4 linked regions of the Homo sapiens genome follow. The protein of the gene in region 1 purifies or fractionates together with the protein of each later gene. This does not show direct contact. Each region holds a gene or a part of one and is shown on either strand. Other genes may lie near its edges.

The links.
Region 2: the proteins of DSC1 (region 1) and POC5 purify together in Homo sapiens (co-immunoprecipitation; one large-scale study listed by IntAct). This does not show direct contact.
Region 3: the proteins of DSC1 (region 1) and TBC1D4 purify together in Homo sapiens (affinity purification with mass spectrometry; one large-scale study listed by BioGRID and IntAct). This does not show direct contact.
Region 4: the proteins of DSC1 (region 1) and KSR2 purify together in Homo sapiens (co-immunoprecipitation; one large-scale study listed by IntAct). This does not show direct contact.

Annotation. Positions count from the first base shown.
Region 1 is NC_000018.10:31,154,672-31,160,415, reverse strand, and holds part of DSC1 (desmocollin-1 isoform Dsc1a preproprotein), read left to right. Parts: intron 1-886; coding exon 887-971; intron 972-2,842; coding exon 2,843-3,045; intron 3,046-4,253; coding exon 4,254-4,373; intron 4,374-5,486; coding exon 5,487-5,642; intron 5,643-5,744. UniProt on the Homo sapiens protein: A component of desmosome cell-cell junctions which are required for positive regulation of cellular adhesion.
Region 2 is NC_000005.10:75,689,938-75,693,437, forward strand, and holds part of POC5 (centrosomal protein POC5), read right to left. Parts: intron 2,564-3,500; coding exon 2,459-2,563; intron 626-2,458; coding exon 446-625; intron 1-445. UniProt on the Homo sapiens protein: Essential for the assembly of the distal half of centrioles, required for centriole elongation. Acts as a negative regulator of centriole elongation.
Region 3 is NC_000013.11:75,286,670-75,290,169, reverse strand, and holds part of TBC1D4 (TBC1 domain family member 4), read left to right. Parts: intron 1-1,059; coding exon 1,060-1,236; intron 1,237-3,144; coding exon 3,145-3,378; 3' UTR 3,379-3,500.
Region 4 is NC_000012.12:117,458,491-117,461,990, forward strand, and holds part of KSR2 (kinase suppressor of Ras 2), read right to left. Parts: 3' UTR 1-3,500. UniProt on the Homo sapiens protein: Location-regulated scaffold connecting MEK to RAF. Has very low protein kinase activity and can phosphorylate MAP2K1 at several Ser and Thr residues with very low efficiency (in vitro).

The DNA of each region.
Region 1 (5,744 bases):
GAAAAGCTGAAAGCTGATCATAAAATTGACCTACATGTTTCTGGAAAACCTAGCTCTACTCTATCTTATATTTAAATAATAAAAAAGCAGTTATTTTGATAAAGAGGAACAAACAGAAAATGCCAAGAAAAAGAAGTAAAATATATTTTGAACCTATAGACATTTTTGAAATGATAGCTTTTCTTTTGTTTTTTTCAGATAGTGTCTATGTCTTTGAACTACCTAGGTTTTAAAAACAATAGCTGGGCCTTGAATTTAATTAAAAATCTTCACCCATCTGAAGGATACTCTCCATATTTTGACATATATTTCTTTTTAGATTAGTCATGTGATTTGAGATCATTTAGATTTTGGCGTTTTGGCCAAGTCAGTCACAAAATTGATTTGAGAACAATGATTTTTTGGGGGCATTATTTTTCTGTGAGGTTAAAAAAGCCCTTAACTATTTTCTAGACTTCATCAACTATAACTTCAAATAGTAAAATGATGATTAGAGAATTAGGGCATATATGTAATTATGCATTTCAAAGGTAAGTATTTTCTTCATGCTAAAAATCAGAATGGCATTTATGAATGGTCTTAGAGACGTATAACTTCTATATAAAGTCAATGGTTTGTGAAATATTTTCTTGCATTGACACAATATGATTTAGGTTCTAAGAACTACTATTCACTTAATTTTTTTCATTGACAAATAAATGACAGTGCTATTCCTAAAGCTATTCTCTTTGCTGGTTCCTTTTAAAGTGAGTATTAAAAATGTAAAGAATTAAATGATTAATTTGTTTCCAAAATTGACAATATTTTTATCAATAAGAAAAAGCTACAATGTGAAAATTTGTGATCAAATTTAATTCCTGATATTTTTTCTTTTTTTTTTTTTGAGGTTTTAACATTACTTTGCGATGCTTGTCAGAAAGTTTATCTTCGAGTTCCTTCTCATCTTCAGGCTGAAACACTTGTAGGCAAAGGTGAGAAACACTATTAACAGTTTCATAGCTGTAACTTGTCACATTTAGCTGCAGGCTGCTCTTGTAAAGTTTGGGATAAAAACCACATAGTAGGCCGGGCGCGGTGGCTCACGCCTGTAATCCCAGCACTTTGGGAGGCCGAGGCGGGTGGATCATGAGGTCAGGAGATCGAGACCATCCTGGCTAACAAGGTGAAACCCCGTCTCTACTAAAAATACAAAAAATTAGCCGGGCGCGGTGGCGGGCGCCTGTAGTCCCAGCTACTCGGGAGGCTGAGGCAGGAGAATGGCGTGAACCCAAGAGGCGGAGCTTGCAGTGAGCCGAGATTGCGCCACTGCAGTCCGCAGTCCGGCCTGGGCGACAGAGCAAGACTCTGTCTCAAAAAAAAAAAAAAAAACCACATAGTAGCTACTTGAAGTTAAAATCGGATGTACAATAAAAGACAGGCTACTTGTTTTTTGGTAGTGGTTAGAAATAATTAAAATACCAAAGTTAGTTGTATACTTCTCTTGCCAAAAAAATTAGCAAACATCAGAAGGCTCAATTATCTTGGATTACGTCAAACAAAGCAAGGCACCAAAACCAGGAGCATATTCTAATTTGTATAAACTAATCTGCTGCCAAAATTTCAAAGCCAAGATTCTTCAATTGATTAGACATGAAATGGATGTCTCAAAATCTAAATGCCCCCAATAAAATTTGTACTTGAGGTTGATTACAATGAACAAGTATCCACCAAGAATAAATGTGACATATTTCACAGAACAGCTTGTGAAAATCAAATACAGTTTTGGTGGGTCTTAGTACCATAGCCATCTCTGAAGTATAAGTTGGTTGTTCTGAGCCCAAACGTAAAATTTTTTTCATCAAGGTTTTTCACTGGCTTTGCATTCACATGTAAAAAATTACAAACAATACAGAAATGGTATCCTTTCCAAGCCAGATGTTGTTTTGCCCAGTGCTTTAAGGTTTGAAATTAATAAACAGTCCACACTCTAAAGACACATAGTAAATACACTAAATGTGTTAAATATGAATCTGTAAAGGAGGTAATTTGATAATAACCACAGCGCATCGGGTTTACTAAACCTTGAAAGATATTACAGAAAGATTATTTGCAATATTACTGGGAAATATTACTTAAGAATAGACTGGTTTTCTTCTTATTTATTTATTTAGAGACAAAGTCTTGCTCTGTTGCCCAGGCTGAAGTGCAGTGGTGCTATCTCTGCTCACTGCAACCTTCACCTCCCAGGTTCAAGCAATTCTCCTGACTAAGCCTCCTGAGTCGCTGGAATTACAGGTGCACGCCACCATGCTTGGCTAATTTTTGTATTTTTAGTAGAGATGGAGTTTCACCATATTGGCCAGGCTGATCTAGAACTCCCGACCTTGTGATCCTCCCACCTCGGCCTCCCAAACTGCTGGGATTACAGGTGTGAGCCACTTAGTTTTCTTATTTTTGGCAAGATAGTTTTAAGTATCAAACTACTGCAAAAAGTTCAAAACCTACTGACATCATACGGTTATACCACTTATGACATAAAAAATCAAGTTTGTATACACATATATAAATTTATACACACACAATAATTAAGAGTTCAAAGAAAAGAGAATAAAATCAGTGACACTAGGAAAATATTTTATTTCTCAAATTAATGTATGACGAAGGTAGTGGAAAATGTGACTCCATTAATATAATTATTTAATTTTCATGGCCCCCACGTTTTAGAATAGCAGGTGCTGAGCACATTCCAAATGTAACCTCCCTTTTTCTGCTTCTCATGCATTAACTCACGGCTGTCATTCCTGTAAAACTTGTTCCACTCCTGTTTCATCTGACAAACTGCTGTGATATTTCTTCCCTGCAGTGAATCTGGAGGAGTGTCTCAAGTCGGCCAGCCTAATCCGGTCCAGTGACCCTGCCTTCAGAATTCTAGAAGATGGCTCAATTTACACAACACATGACCTCATTTTGTCTTCTGAAAGGAAAAGTTTTTCCATTTTCCTTTCAGATGGTCAGAGACGGGAACAACAAGAGATAAAAGTTGTACTGTCAGCAAGAGAAAACAAGGTATAAGGCAAGGGCTTAAGCAGCCTAGCACAGTAATATGCTTACGGGAGTCCTTCGTGTTTCATGTGTTTTAACGTGTTTCATGTTAAAATCTATGCTATTGAATGACAAATTTGTCTTTTCCACTTACAATTAGTGTAAATAAAGACTAGACTTTTAAGGAGTGGCAGAGCCATTTACAAACTTTTATAAAGATGAATGACTCTGTAGACCAGGAGCAAAGTAAGAATATCAGAGTTTTCTAATAGTGATTTCAAGTTTGGGAATAAGAACAAACCAACCTGAGGAGCAAGGACAAGACAGGGGCGGGTCTAAAACTCAGCGAAATGTGATTCAGGCTGGAGATGTGGGCTCCACCCTGTGCGGCTCTCTTCCCACTGATTGCGGGTTTGAGTCTCTCTTTAAAGAGGAGAAGAGACTGTTTAAAGCTTACTCCCATCTTACTAGAATATTCTATAGGGCAGGCCCTCTCTTCAGAGAGTGGAGGTGTGGCCAATCCACAGAATTGATTTGAATGTTTAACTCTAGGCTCATTTTCTTGCACTGAGCGGTAGAGATCAGTTCAGAAAGCAGGGAGGAAAAAGTTGCTGGAATTCACATCTCATTTTCAGCAAATTCACCACAATGAATTTCGTCTTATAAAACCATTTCTTAATAAATGATTCTATTTAGGAGAGGATTTCCCAACTAAATTCTTTTTGATTGTATGAACTCCTCTTAATATGCTTAAGACTTTAAAAATGTTATTTTATATCCACATTGTAAAATCCCCACATTATATAAAATCAAGTATACTTGAGCAAATGCTGACCTGTGTCTACATAGATGTATAAATGATTGTATTGTGGAGTGAGGGTTTTAACAGATTTTGGTTGTGCCAGTCCTAGTGGAATAAAGTTGATCCTTAAATATTTATTAATGAATTATCTATTTTAGGGGGAGTTTATACTTTCTCAAAGTGGCATCTTTCCAAATGCCCTATACATTTCCTGGTGGTTAACTGAGTAAATAGAGAAATAGGTAGAACGGGGGAACATAATGTAGTCTGAGGTGTGTGTGTGTGTTTTATCAATAGAAATGCTTTGCTGACTAGCCATGATATTGTAATGTGTAACCCTTACATCTGCTTGTTGATGTATGTGTAAAATAATCACAGTTCCAAAAAATGATAAGCAATGCTACATTTCTTTGTTTCTTGTCAAATGTAGTCTCCTAAGAAGAGACATACCAAAGACACAGCCCTCAAGCGCAGCAAGAGACGATGGGCTCCTATTCCAGCTTCATTGATGGAGAACTCGTTGGGTCCATTTCCACAACACGTTCAGCAGGTGCATTTCACTTATTTGATTTTATATGTGTCCAAATTTTTTTTTGTTCTTAAACTTTTCATTTGAATTGCACAGCATATTGAATCAGAGGTTTAAACTAATGGTACAAATAATGATCATCTATTCACCAGAACTAGGGTCCCATAGAAGTGACCCAGTATATCTTATTACTTTCTTACAGATATCATATTTAGAAATTTAGAAACAAGTTTTATATTTGGAGTTTCTGGTGCTCTTAGGTCTATGTCTAAATTCACCCAAATACTATGCTAGACTTGTTAACACTAATGTACAGAAGGCACACCTACATGTTTTGCATAGTTCAATTCTTGCTTAAACTAACACTCATCTTTTATAAAAATGACCTGTATTTCTGCTTACCAAGTAAGATTGCCTCACTGCCACATAGCTGGATTGCAAACATAGAACAGTTTTGAAATTTTGGAGTATAGTGGCATCAGCTCAGCTCACCGCAACCTCTGCCTCCTGGGTTCAAGCGATTCTCCTGCCTCAACCTCCCGAGTTGCTGGGATTACGGACACCCACCACGAAGCCCAGCTAATTTTTGTATTTTTAGTAGAGGCAAGGTTTCGCCATGTTGACCAGTTTGGTCTTGAACTCCTGATCTCAGGTGATTCACCTGCCTAGGCCTCCCAAAGTGCTGGGATTACAGGTGTGAGCCACTGCGCCCGGCCAAAATTTTCTAATTCTTGAGGAATTAATTGTGGAAGAAAAGTTGCTTTACTTCTAGTTTTATTATCACATAATTTTCAATTCCAAAGAATTCAAAATCACGGAAACTGTTACTATTATTTATATGAAGATAAGAATAAATAGATAAAACTTGAAAAGTGTATTACTCTACATGTTTTATAGATATACAAATGACAAAAAAGTTGAGATCAAATAAGTGACAGAATTTGTGGCTTTGCACAATGCAAAATGCAAATAAAAATTCGGAAAACATGGCAGATAATGGGCACCTAAGCAGAAGAAAGAAAGAATAGGAGAGTAGGAAAGAGGGGTAGTGGTAAAAAAATAAACCATCACAAGAGGTTAGGTTGAAAATATTCATCATGACGTATTTGTTCTATTCCTAAATTATTACTGCAGATCCAATCTGATGCTGCACAGAATTACACCATCTTTTATTCCATAAGTGGGCCAGGCGTGGACAAAGAACCCTTCAATTTGTTTTACATAGAGAAAGACACTGGGGATATCTTTTGTACAAGGAGCATTGACCGTGAGAAATATGAACAGTTTGCGGTAGGATTATTGAAATATTTATTCATAATTATATCTTTATTACTGGCTTACTAATATTTTCAACTATGCTTGTTTACATATTATAAGAATCAATTATTTGAT
Region 2 (3,500 bases), on another chromosome or scaffold:
GTGCAACAGTGTGATATAGCTCACTGCAACTTCTGCCTCCCAGGTTCAAAAGATTATCCTGCCTCAGCCTCCCGAGTAGCGGGTATTATAGGCATGTGCCACCATACCCAGCTAATTTTTTTAGTAGAGACGGGGTTTCACCATGTTGACCAGGCTGGTCTCAAACTCCTGACTCAGGTGATCTGCCCGCCTCGGCCTCCCAAAGTGCTGGGTCTACAGGAGTGAGGCACCGCGCCCAACTAATAATTTCAATTTCTATACAACTCCTTATATCAACCATGTAAGAATATACAATAAACATTAAATTAACACAAGAATAAACGTTTTCATTTTTTTGTCTGCATTCTTGATTAAAGACCAAAAGAAGAAGTCTATTAATTAATAGTGAGTCTATCTATCTTTTTATTGTATTAGAAGAAAGTGAAAACCAGAAAAAGATGCTTACCATAGCAACTTTGGCTTCATAATCATTGGAAATCTGGATACAAACTTCTTCAGCTCTTGCTTGACAAGCTCTTTCTACCACATCTTTCCACTGCTTTTGCACTACGGAACGCCAGACTTTCCAGACTTTCTTCAGTAAAGTTCTCTGGTAGTACTGGTCAGCTAGTTTACCTTCATAAACCTAAATAAAAGTAAAATATAACTTCAAAAACACAGTTGATTGATAAATATATTGGTAGTAATAATAAACATAACATGGTGGTAAGTGTACATATACACATTATTTAATTCTATGTAATCATATTATTCTCATCTTGCATATAGGAGAACAGGCTTAGAGAGGTTAAGCAAGCTACGTAGTTCACATAAGTAGATGAGTAAAGCCAGACTTGCCTGACTCCAGAGACTGAGCTCTTATCCATTACATCATTGCTTTATGCAACTAATCAAGTTAGAGAAAAAGAATACAACCAAATGAAAGAAAATGAGCAAATCACCACTTGCCATCTTAGTTATGAATTTAGCAGGACCAGGAGAATAACAGAGTGGCTAGAAGGCAGGAAATGGTGGTGGCTGTGGCTTCAGATGACACTGCTTTCTCTTCAGTTTGATGGCCACCACAAGCAAGATTTAATTTATAAACCCTGCCATCATATATGGTGCCAATCCAAATAAAAACTTATGCTATTTTTCTTTTATCAATGAATTTAAATTCTTTTGAAGAAGTAGTTCCAATTCTCAATTTCTTCAGTTTGAAAAACTATCCAAAAGTGACAGTAGCCTCAACTATTCTGGCTAACATTTAAAAATAAATATGTATTCTCATTATTTCACTTGACAAGTTTCAAAGTAGAGTATAAATATTCATTTTAACCAGCTTACTTAATGTGGATTTAATCTACTGGGATTAATTAAAAAAATGAAAAATCCAGAAAGTATTCTTAAAGGAGAAATCTTATTCCAGGATAAAGTAGGTTGAGCATCTCTAATCCAAAAATCTGAAACTTTTTGAGTGTCAGCATGACACCACAAGTGAAAAATTCCACACAGAAGTACTTAACACAAACTTTGTTTCATGCATAAAATTATTAAAAATATTGTATACAATTACCTTAGGCTATATGTATAAGGTGAAATATGAAACATAAATGAATTTTGTGCATAAGGTGTGATATGAAACATAATCTAAAATCCAAAATTCTCCTGGTGCCAAACATTTTGGATAAGGGATACTCAACCTGTACTAGCTTTTTCCTTAAATACTAATCTCTTGGAAACTAAATACACAGAGATTATTCCATAGCTCACATGAATATACATGGAAAGCATATATATATATATTCATCTCCTATATTCATGTGTCTCTAAACTATGTCTTGTTGTGGGATATACTCATACTTTTCCACTTTTGATACAACAATTTAGTATTCTCTTTCAGTTCACTATTTACTGATATACCAACTCAGCTCTTACTTAAAATAAAAGATGTTCAAGTTTAAATGATATACTACAAGCTAAGGATAACTTTTAAAAAGCTGTACAGGTATGGCTTTCTCTGACTCTCACTCTAAGGCAAGTCTACATAACAAACATTTATACTGTGATTTAATGTATAAATATAGTAAAGCCTCTTTATGAATAAGTTGTATTCAGGCATTTTAAAAGTAGAAACAATATAGGAAGCATTTGATATGTTAAACATAACTTCTTTCTCCAATAACCACATCTGAGGGGGTTCTATTACCAGGGCCTTTACAATTTAGGAACAATCCTTATTAACCTACTATGAAGCAGGAAATGATGTATCTATTGTAATATATATATATTATATGTCAATAAGATCTAAACTGTATTTTTTCCAAACTACATCAAAATCAAATTCCTTTGAAATAAGAGGAACATTAAATCACAAATTCATTTTGACTTATTAGAAAACAACTATAATAAGTGATCCTGAGCACTTCTGAATTCAGAAGTCTAACATCCATCAGCTGTCTTCTGCTTTGACACTTACATCCTGTCTGGCTCTGACATGGCCGATTCGCCAGTGGAAGAATGTTCTCATCAACTCTATCTTTTCCTTTTGCTTGCCTATGGCATGAGACAAGCTAGAAATCACCTGTAAACAGCAATTAACCCAATTATTGTGATATTAAAATAACAGCAATTGGTAAAGTGATTTTCTCATATATCAAAAAATGCTAGAGAGGATAGGTATGGATCACTACTATATTCATTCAGTTAACCTCATTATTATCTTTAAAAAGATGGTAAAACTTTCTCACATGAATATACTAGATATCAACTAATGAAAGGGAACAAAAGAAGAAGGAAGTCTTCATTATGTGTATATGGTAATCACCAATAAAAAGTTTATGTATATGCAAATTAGCTACTGACATTCAATTCAGGTAAAACAATTATACATTTGAAAGTTCTCCTATATACACCATGTCTTTATTCACTAGATTTGAGGGCAGGGGCCAGAATATTTAGATATTTAAATATCTTTCTGGTCCCTACTACTATCTTGGATATAGAAGTTCCTCAACGACTGTCCAATGATTTTCTGGATTAAACAAACCTATAAAAGCAAATAATAGTTATATATGTAACTATTAATATGTTATAGTTATATATATAACTATATATTATATATGTTATATATACCTATTAATAACATGTTATACATATAACTATTAATAACATATATAACATATGTCATACATAAAATGTTATATATATAAGTAAATATATATAATTAATGTTATACATATAACATATTAATAACATTATATATAACTAATGTTATTAATGTTATATGTTGATGTACTTCTTCAGTGATATTATTACTCTTGTTCTTAAAAAAAAATTCAGAAGGCTTTAAAATCCTAAGATAATATTCTCTCTTATAAAAGAACTGAATAACTGAAATAAATTTCTAAAAATAGTCACATTAGAAAGAGATTTTGTAAATTGGGCACATTTACCAAGAGATATTTATAACTGCTCTTTAAATAATTTCCAGAGAGGAAAAGGGCATACATTCTAAGCTA
Region 3 (3,500 bases), on another chromosome or scaffold:
TTGTACATAAATGAAATCATACTATATATACTATTGTGGAACCTGATTTATAATTAAAAATATAAAGTATTAGATTTTTTCCAGTAACTATAAATCCATATTATCATTTTTAATGGTTGTATAATAATCCATTGTATCCATACCCACTAAGTAAGGAAAAGATGATGGTTATTTGAGGATAACCAGTTAGTCTAGAAATTCTCTTATTAAAATTCGAATGTTTGAGTATCTCTATTAGTAAGTAGTAGAGTAAGTCAGGTTTTTTGTGGTTTCTTTTCTCTTCTCAGTGTTAGTATAGACACCATTGCTTGAATAGCAGCTGTTGTCTCTCCTTCCCCCTAGGAAGTTTGGAGTAACTGTCCTCTAGCTTCAAAGCAAACGACCTTCCTATTTAGTGGTGACATGGGAGAGCAGTAGCAGCCCTAATTAAACCTTACAGCCCTGGACAGTGCTCACAGTGTGCAATTTTGAGGATTCTCTGTGTGGTACAATATGTAAATGACTCTTAAGAGGCTTACAGGGAATAGCAAATGGATGCAAAATTTTATTAAGATCTTTCTGCTCCATTGGCAAATAAATTAGAAATGCTTTTGGTTGCTTTATTACAGTAATACCCTATGCAATTTTGCTTACTAATCAGCAGAGATTATCTCTAACATAATAATTACTCAATAACTAATGTTGTTTATCTAGTATACTACATTTTGGGAGACAGTTACTAGATTATGAATATCTTAGCTGCCAAATACACTTGGACATTAATTTATTCTAGGGACTTAGCTTCATGAGAATGTTTCAATTGCATAGAAATAATCTATCTGTTCTGTTTTTAAAGAAAATCTTCTTTCACAGAAAGAGCTATCTGTTTTTATGTTGACAGTGTAAACTATATCTAATTTATTCTTGTATTGACAGTTACACTTTTTTTTTGCTTTTTTATGCTTTAATGTTCTTCATTAATAAGTATTTGGAAATATACATGAAATATACCAAGATAAACAGGCTGTATCTTGTTATACATACCAAAGGCTAGCCTAACCCATGATACTTTCATGGCAGGTTTTTGAGATGGATATTTCTAAGCAGTTGCATGCCTATGAGGTGGAATATCATGTGCTACAGGATGAGCTTCAGGAATCTTCATATTCCTGTGAGGATAGTGAAACTTTGGAGAAGCTGGAGAGGGCCAATAGCCAACTGAAAAGACAAAACATGGACCTCCTAGAAAAATTACAGGTAAAGAAATAAAGATTTGAGCAAATAAGTACTTCAATGCCTCCTGCATGCACAGAACTACCTCAGGAATGAAAGGGATATGTGCGTGGAATGAACCATTGCTAACCAAGAGCCCATGTATCAGACTGTCCAAGTGCTCTGGGGCTACAAATGACATGTTAAATTAAACATTACTTGGAAAAAAATGCACCCTCACAAAATAGCTAAATGGCAGTTCAAAGTGGAATCTGCTTAAATACCTGTTGCATGTTATAGATATTTGGTTAAATTAAAGGGAGGAGGAATTGAATGTAGGAAATTGATGAAGTTGTGAAGGACCTGGGCTTGAGCTGGAATCTGGAGGGTTGGTGGAAGAAATGAGTGAGGAGGGTCTTTAAGTCAGGCTGAGTAGGAGGGTGGCATCAATCAGAAGGACATGGCAGAGCAGCAAAGTTAGCCTAGTGTCAATTTAAGATAGAGGTTGGGGAGAGGTAGGGTAAATATGATAGAGGCAGAATCGTAAGTGACTTTCAGTGTCAAGCCAAAGAACATGGCTTTAATCCTGTCAAGAGGGAAATCTCTCAAAGTTTTTGGGCCATGCTGTAGAAAGATCAATCTGGGAACCTTGACGAGGACAGATTGAGATGGGAGAGAAGGTAAGGAGGCCTGCTAAAAGTCACTTGTGAAAATCTGTTGCGGATGATGAGAGTTGTCTAGACTAAAATGGAAATTGGAAGAGAGGGAGACATGTCTAGGTAAATTGAATCCCATGCAAATGTTACATGTAATATTAATACATCATTCCTGCCATCAGGGAGTTCACAATTATTTGAGAATATAAAATACTATATATCTGTCTCTAAGCGCACACTTATACATGCAATAAGAAATTTATTATAAAGTCATATTCGGTATTTGCAACTTGTATGATGTGTGCTATGTAGCCATGCCCTGAGGGGAGGGGCTTAAGAGTGATCACAGGATGGGGGCTAGCAGGTGACCCTTCTGAAGTCTTCGGGGAGATGACTTCAGGGGAGTTTCAGTGTCTAATGGCTCCTCGGTTTCCACTTACTCCTCCTCTCCATTTCCCCAACACTGCACCTGGCTACAAACTGGAAAACACTAAAACTCTGCTTCTATATGGTGAGTCCCCTGTCAAGACCAGTCAAGAGAGACAGGTTAGAAATGAGGGATCTCTAAAGTAGTTGCTTCCCAAGAATGGGAACACTAAACTTCCTTCGCTTTGTCTTACATTGGCTCTGGCTCATAGAAAATGTAAATCTTTTTTTCTATTCAAAAAAGGGCAACATACTCTATTTTCAAAAAGAAAACTAAATGGTTAGTATATTGTCCATTTTTAGTTGGATAGGTCAATGGCGATTAATTATTTGCCCCTTATTAGGGAAGGTGGGTTTGTACCTGTTTTATAATGATTCGTCTGAACTGTTGTAGACTTTTTCACTGACAGTTCAGTGTAGTCATCATCAGTTACTTGGCCACCCCTCACATCTATAAATACTGATGAAAGCCCAAGTGTATGTTTAGAGAACGCCGTATTTCAGTCAGAGAAGGAAAATCTCTTTTAGCACTGCAATAGTGTCAGGAATCTCCTGTTTCTCCTTCAGCCAGGCCAGATCCCACTCACTCAGGGGAACACCAGTGGGTGTAGAATAAGGATTCCTACTGTTGGTGAGGGGGGTGATTTAGTATTGAATTATTCGTGTGTTCAGTGAGAAGAGATGAAGCATGGTAGTTCCATAGTTACATCTTTGTGAAACCTAATAAATCATCGTTTCCTGTAGGTTTTCAGAGTATTTGCTTCACATAATATTTTATTAAGTAATTTGAAGTAATTGGTTAATATGTGTAAGGACTGTCTCCTACTATAATGAATCATTTGATTTGGAGGATTTTTTCCCCCCCAAACAGGTAGCTCATACTAAAATCCAGGCCTTGGAATCAAACCTGGAAAATCTTTTGACGAGAGAGACCAAAATGAAGTCTTTAATCCGGACCCTGGAACAAGAAAAAATGGCTTATCAAAAGACAGTGGAGCAACTCCGGAAGCTGCTGCCCGCGGATGCTCTAGTCAATTGTGACCTGTTGCTGAGAGACCTAAACTGCAACCCTAACAACAAAGCCAAGATAGGAAATAAGCCATAATTGAAGAGGCACGGCCTCAGCAGAAAGTGCTCCTTAGAATACTACAGAGAGGAAGAGCCTGCATGTCGCTGGCCCAAGGCTGGACCCTGAAGCTGATGGAACCACCTAATACTGGTGCTGAG
Region 4 (3,500 bases), on another chromosome or scaffold:
AGCATGTTGGCATAAACAAGTGCTGCCCGCTCAATGGAGGGAGGGAGCCTTTCTTCTGAGCTAATTTAAGCTAAATACATGGCAGCTATTTTTCATCTCTACAATTGTGCAACTTTCTCCTCAGTTTACAATACAGGGGAGATATTATCGGGCAGAAGTTGGATGGGGGATAAGTGAAGACGAGAAGGAAAAGAAGAGGCAGTGGACAAGAAGGTACTCTCAGCCACCGAGCTGGTGATTAGAGGTATTTCAAGAGCTCAGGAGTAGAGCTGGTGGTCCACTAGGACCTCAAGATCTTATCTGGGTGGAAACTTGATTTTGAGCCTTCCATTCAGGGAAGAAACCAAAGAGCAATTGGAGTCAGGCTCCTTTTCCTGCCCTTTATATGCAGCACCCCCTGACTTCCCAGAAGCCCAGACTGAACAGCAGAAATTTTACAAACCTCCTCAAGAAAGAAAAGCCCTTGCAGCTCTCCTGCACACCACCACGCACACTGTTATTCCTTAAGGCCCCCATATGCCGTGACTTCCAGCCCAGCTGTTACTAGACTGGGCATAGCATTCAGGCCTTGTGGTGAAGCCGTCCCAGAAGATAAATGATTTTTCTCCAAGCAGGCAGATTACCGAGTAGGATCATACACAGAGTCTTAGAGACAGAATCTTTCTTTCTGCATTTTCCAAGTTCCCTAACTGAGAAGAAACATCTGCAGAGCGCTGATAGACTGTCCACCAACTACAGCCCAAATGGCTTGGCTTCTGGAAGTTTCTGAGGCCTGAGTTCTAAACCTACCTCTGCCTCTTAGAAGGGACCTGACTTAGGGGAGTTTATTATAGCTTCCCTCTCTGGGCCTCAGATCCTGCTTCTGTGAAAGGAGAAGAGTGAGATAAGGGAGGGTCACTCATATCCATCTTAAGTGGTAACTCGAATGCCCTGAAGCTACATCTGTGATCAGTGGGAAGGCATGCTGTGATGGATTAGTGATGTCTGCCAAGAGTACAGCAGGGGACACTGGTGGTAGATCCATTACATATTTGTACTCCTTGGACCAGATCTTTATCCTTCTAGATCTTAGAGGTCCTTCTAGATCACCATCCCAATGACTTGGTTGAAGATGAAAACTCAGGTGAAAACTTAACCCTTCTGAGGGTGTTACATCTTATATACTTTTCACATTGGCCTCCAAGCCATGGTATGTTGGAGAAGCCACCAACACACAGCAGATTTGACCCCTCCATTGGAAGACACCATCAGCCAGATGTGGTGTTCTTGTTCATGGAACCACTGTCCACATGGATGGAATCGGGCTCTAAGCTACCTTTCTCATCTCCTAGCAGTGTCTATGAATGCTAGTGGTCAGCTCTTTTCTGTGGGCCAGTACATTGACATTGCCTCCTTCAGTACCAGGTAAGGTATCAAGTCTCATTCACAGAGGTTGACCTTGTTGGAGATTCAGAAACAAGCCTGGGAAAGCTTGGGAAGAACAGCCTCCTATCAGGCATTTAGAGATTCAACCACACAATAGTGTCTTAAAAGTTCTGATAAGTCCTGCAATCAAGAAATTAGTTTCATTTTACCTAAGCATTTCCAATGCATGCTTGTCCCAGGACCCTTTCAATAATGCAAATCCGGCGAGTTTTCCATGGAATGAAAGGTCTATGGGACATGCTTGGGAAACAAGGTCTTATTTAGATCAGGCACATTCTAGACAGAGTCCATCTCCTCCAGCTCAGTCCTCAGTGGAAGGAGGACAGCCATTCTCAACCCCATGAGATGAATCCTTCATATTCTTGGTGTTAGGAAATGGGAGCTGCATGATCCCAATGAGTGGGAAGGAAGGGCCCTTTCCCACCCCTGAGAGGGAAGAGCACTCACTGATGTACGCCTCTCAGGAACACGGGACCACAGTGCAACATCCAGCAGGAGAGACGGAGGGGATAGGAAGCCTGGAGCAGGGATACTGGAGGGACCCAGGAGGGACTCTGCCAACCCAGATGTACATTTCCTGGAAATCCGGGCTGCTGCTGGCAGCCTGTCAGTTTGAGAACATAAGTTCAAGCTTCCGTGCAAACTCCCAGTATGGTCCCTGCCAGCCCCTGCACCCTCCCTTCCACAACTTCCTGCTTTTCCTCTCTCTCTTTCCTGGTTCCAAGTTGCCAATAAGTCTCAGAGGCTGGGATTGTAACATCCCCATGAGCAGCTGGACATGAACCCCTTGACCTGGAGGTGGGTTCCTGGGAATGGATGAGCCCAAAGACTCGTTTTTAAAATGCTGGGTCTGCAATTTGGAGGCTGGTTTCTGTCCCTGTACCACAGTTGCCCCATTGGAACGAGAATAAGACTACTGATCTCCCCAAACCATCATAGGAATTCCAGCCTGGCACGTAGTAAGTGCTCTGTGAATGAGGGCTGTTCAGGGTGGATTGTTACTCTGCCTCCTAGACATCCTGGGCCACCTGACTCAATGGGTCGCTTCATACGTCACAGATATTAAACCTGGCAAACTGGCTCAGCACAATGGCTTAGCCCTGTAATCCCAGTGCTTTGGGAGGCTGAAGCAGGGGGATTGCTTGAGACCAGGAGTTCAAGACCAGCGCGGGCAACATAGCAAGACCCTGTCTGTACAACAAATAAAAAATTAGCCAGGCATGATGGTGTGCACCTGTAGTACCAGCAACTTGAGAGGCTAAGGTGGGAGGATTGCTTGTGGCCAGGAGTTCGAGGCTGCAGTGAGCTATGATCACGCTGTACTCCAGCCTGGGTGACAGAGCAAGACTCTAACTCTAAACCACAACAACAAACCTAACAAACAAACTCATTGGGGTTGATATGGCACCCACAACATGGTCTGGCAAAGGGGAATCCCAATACCATCCAGCCCTGCCAATGGTGCCCTTCTAACTCCCTGTGCCAGGGTCTTACTCTTACCCAGCAAACCTCTCTGTCTGCATTCTGTAAACATTTCTTGAGCACTTACTATGTGCCAGGCACTACTAAGACAAGTCCAGGAGGTCACTGGGACCGCAGATTTTCCATCAACCTCCTGCCCCACTACTGGTTTCAAAACTAAACTGGTAACAGAATGGGTATGGATTGCAGGGCCTCGAGAAGGGAGTCTGGGATTTGGGTTAATATCATAGTCAGGCACTGACCAGAGAGGACAGAGGTTCACTGCGGCTCCACATTCCAGGACCCAGACTGACATTTGCTGCCTGTCACTCCCCTTGGAGTTCAAAGTGATTCCCTTGCAGGTGTGTGCAGGTGAGGGTGAGGTGGTACGGGAGGAGGTGAGGCTGGGAGCCAGGGAGAGTGGCCACATGAGTCTGCCTAGGAACTTCCCCACATCACAGGCAAAGCCAAAAAAGGAAACAGCAAAATGTAGCTCATCAAAATCCACTCCTTTGTCAATGAACAAGAGTATAGATAAAATCAGATGCTGTGTCACCAACTGCTTTGGATAGGGTCATGAGGCACATTCAGGGGTCAAGTGACAGTCCGCTACA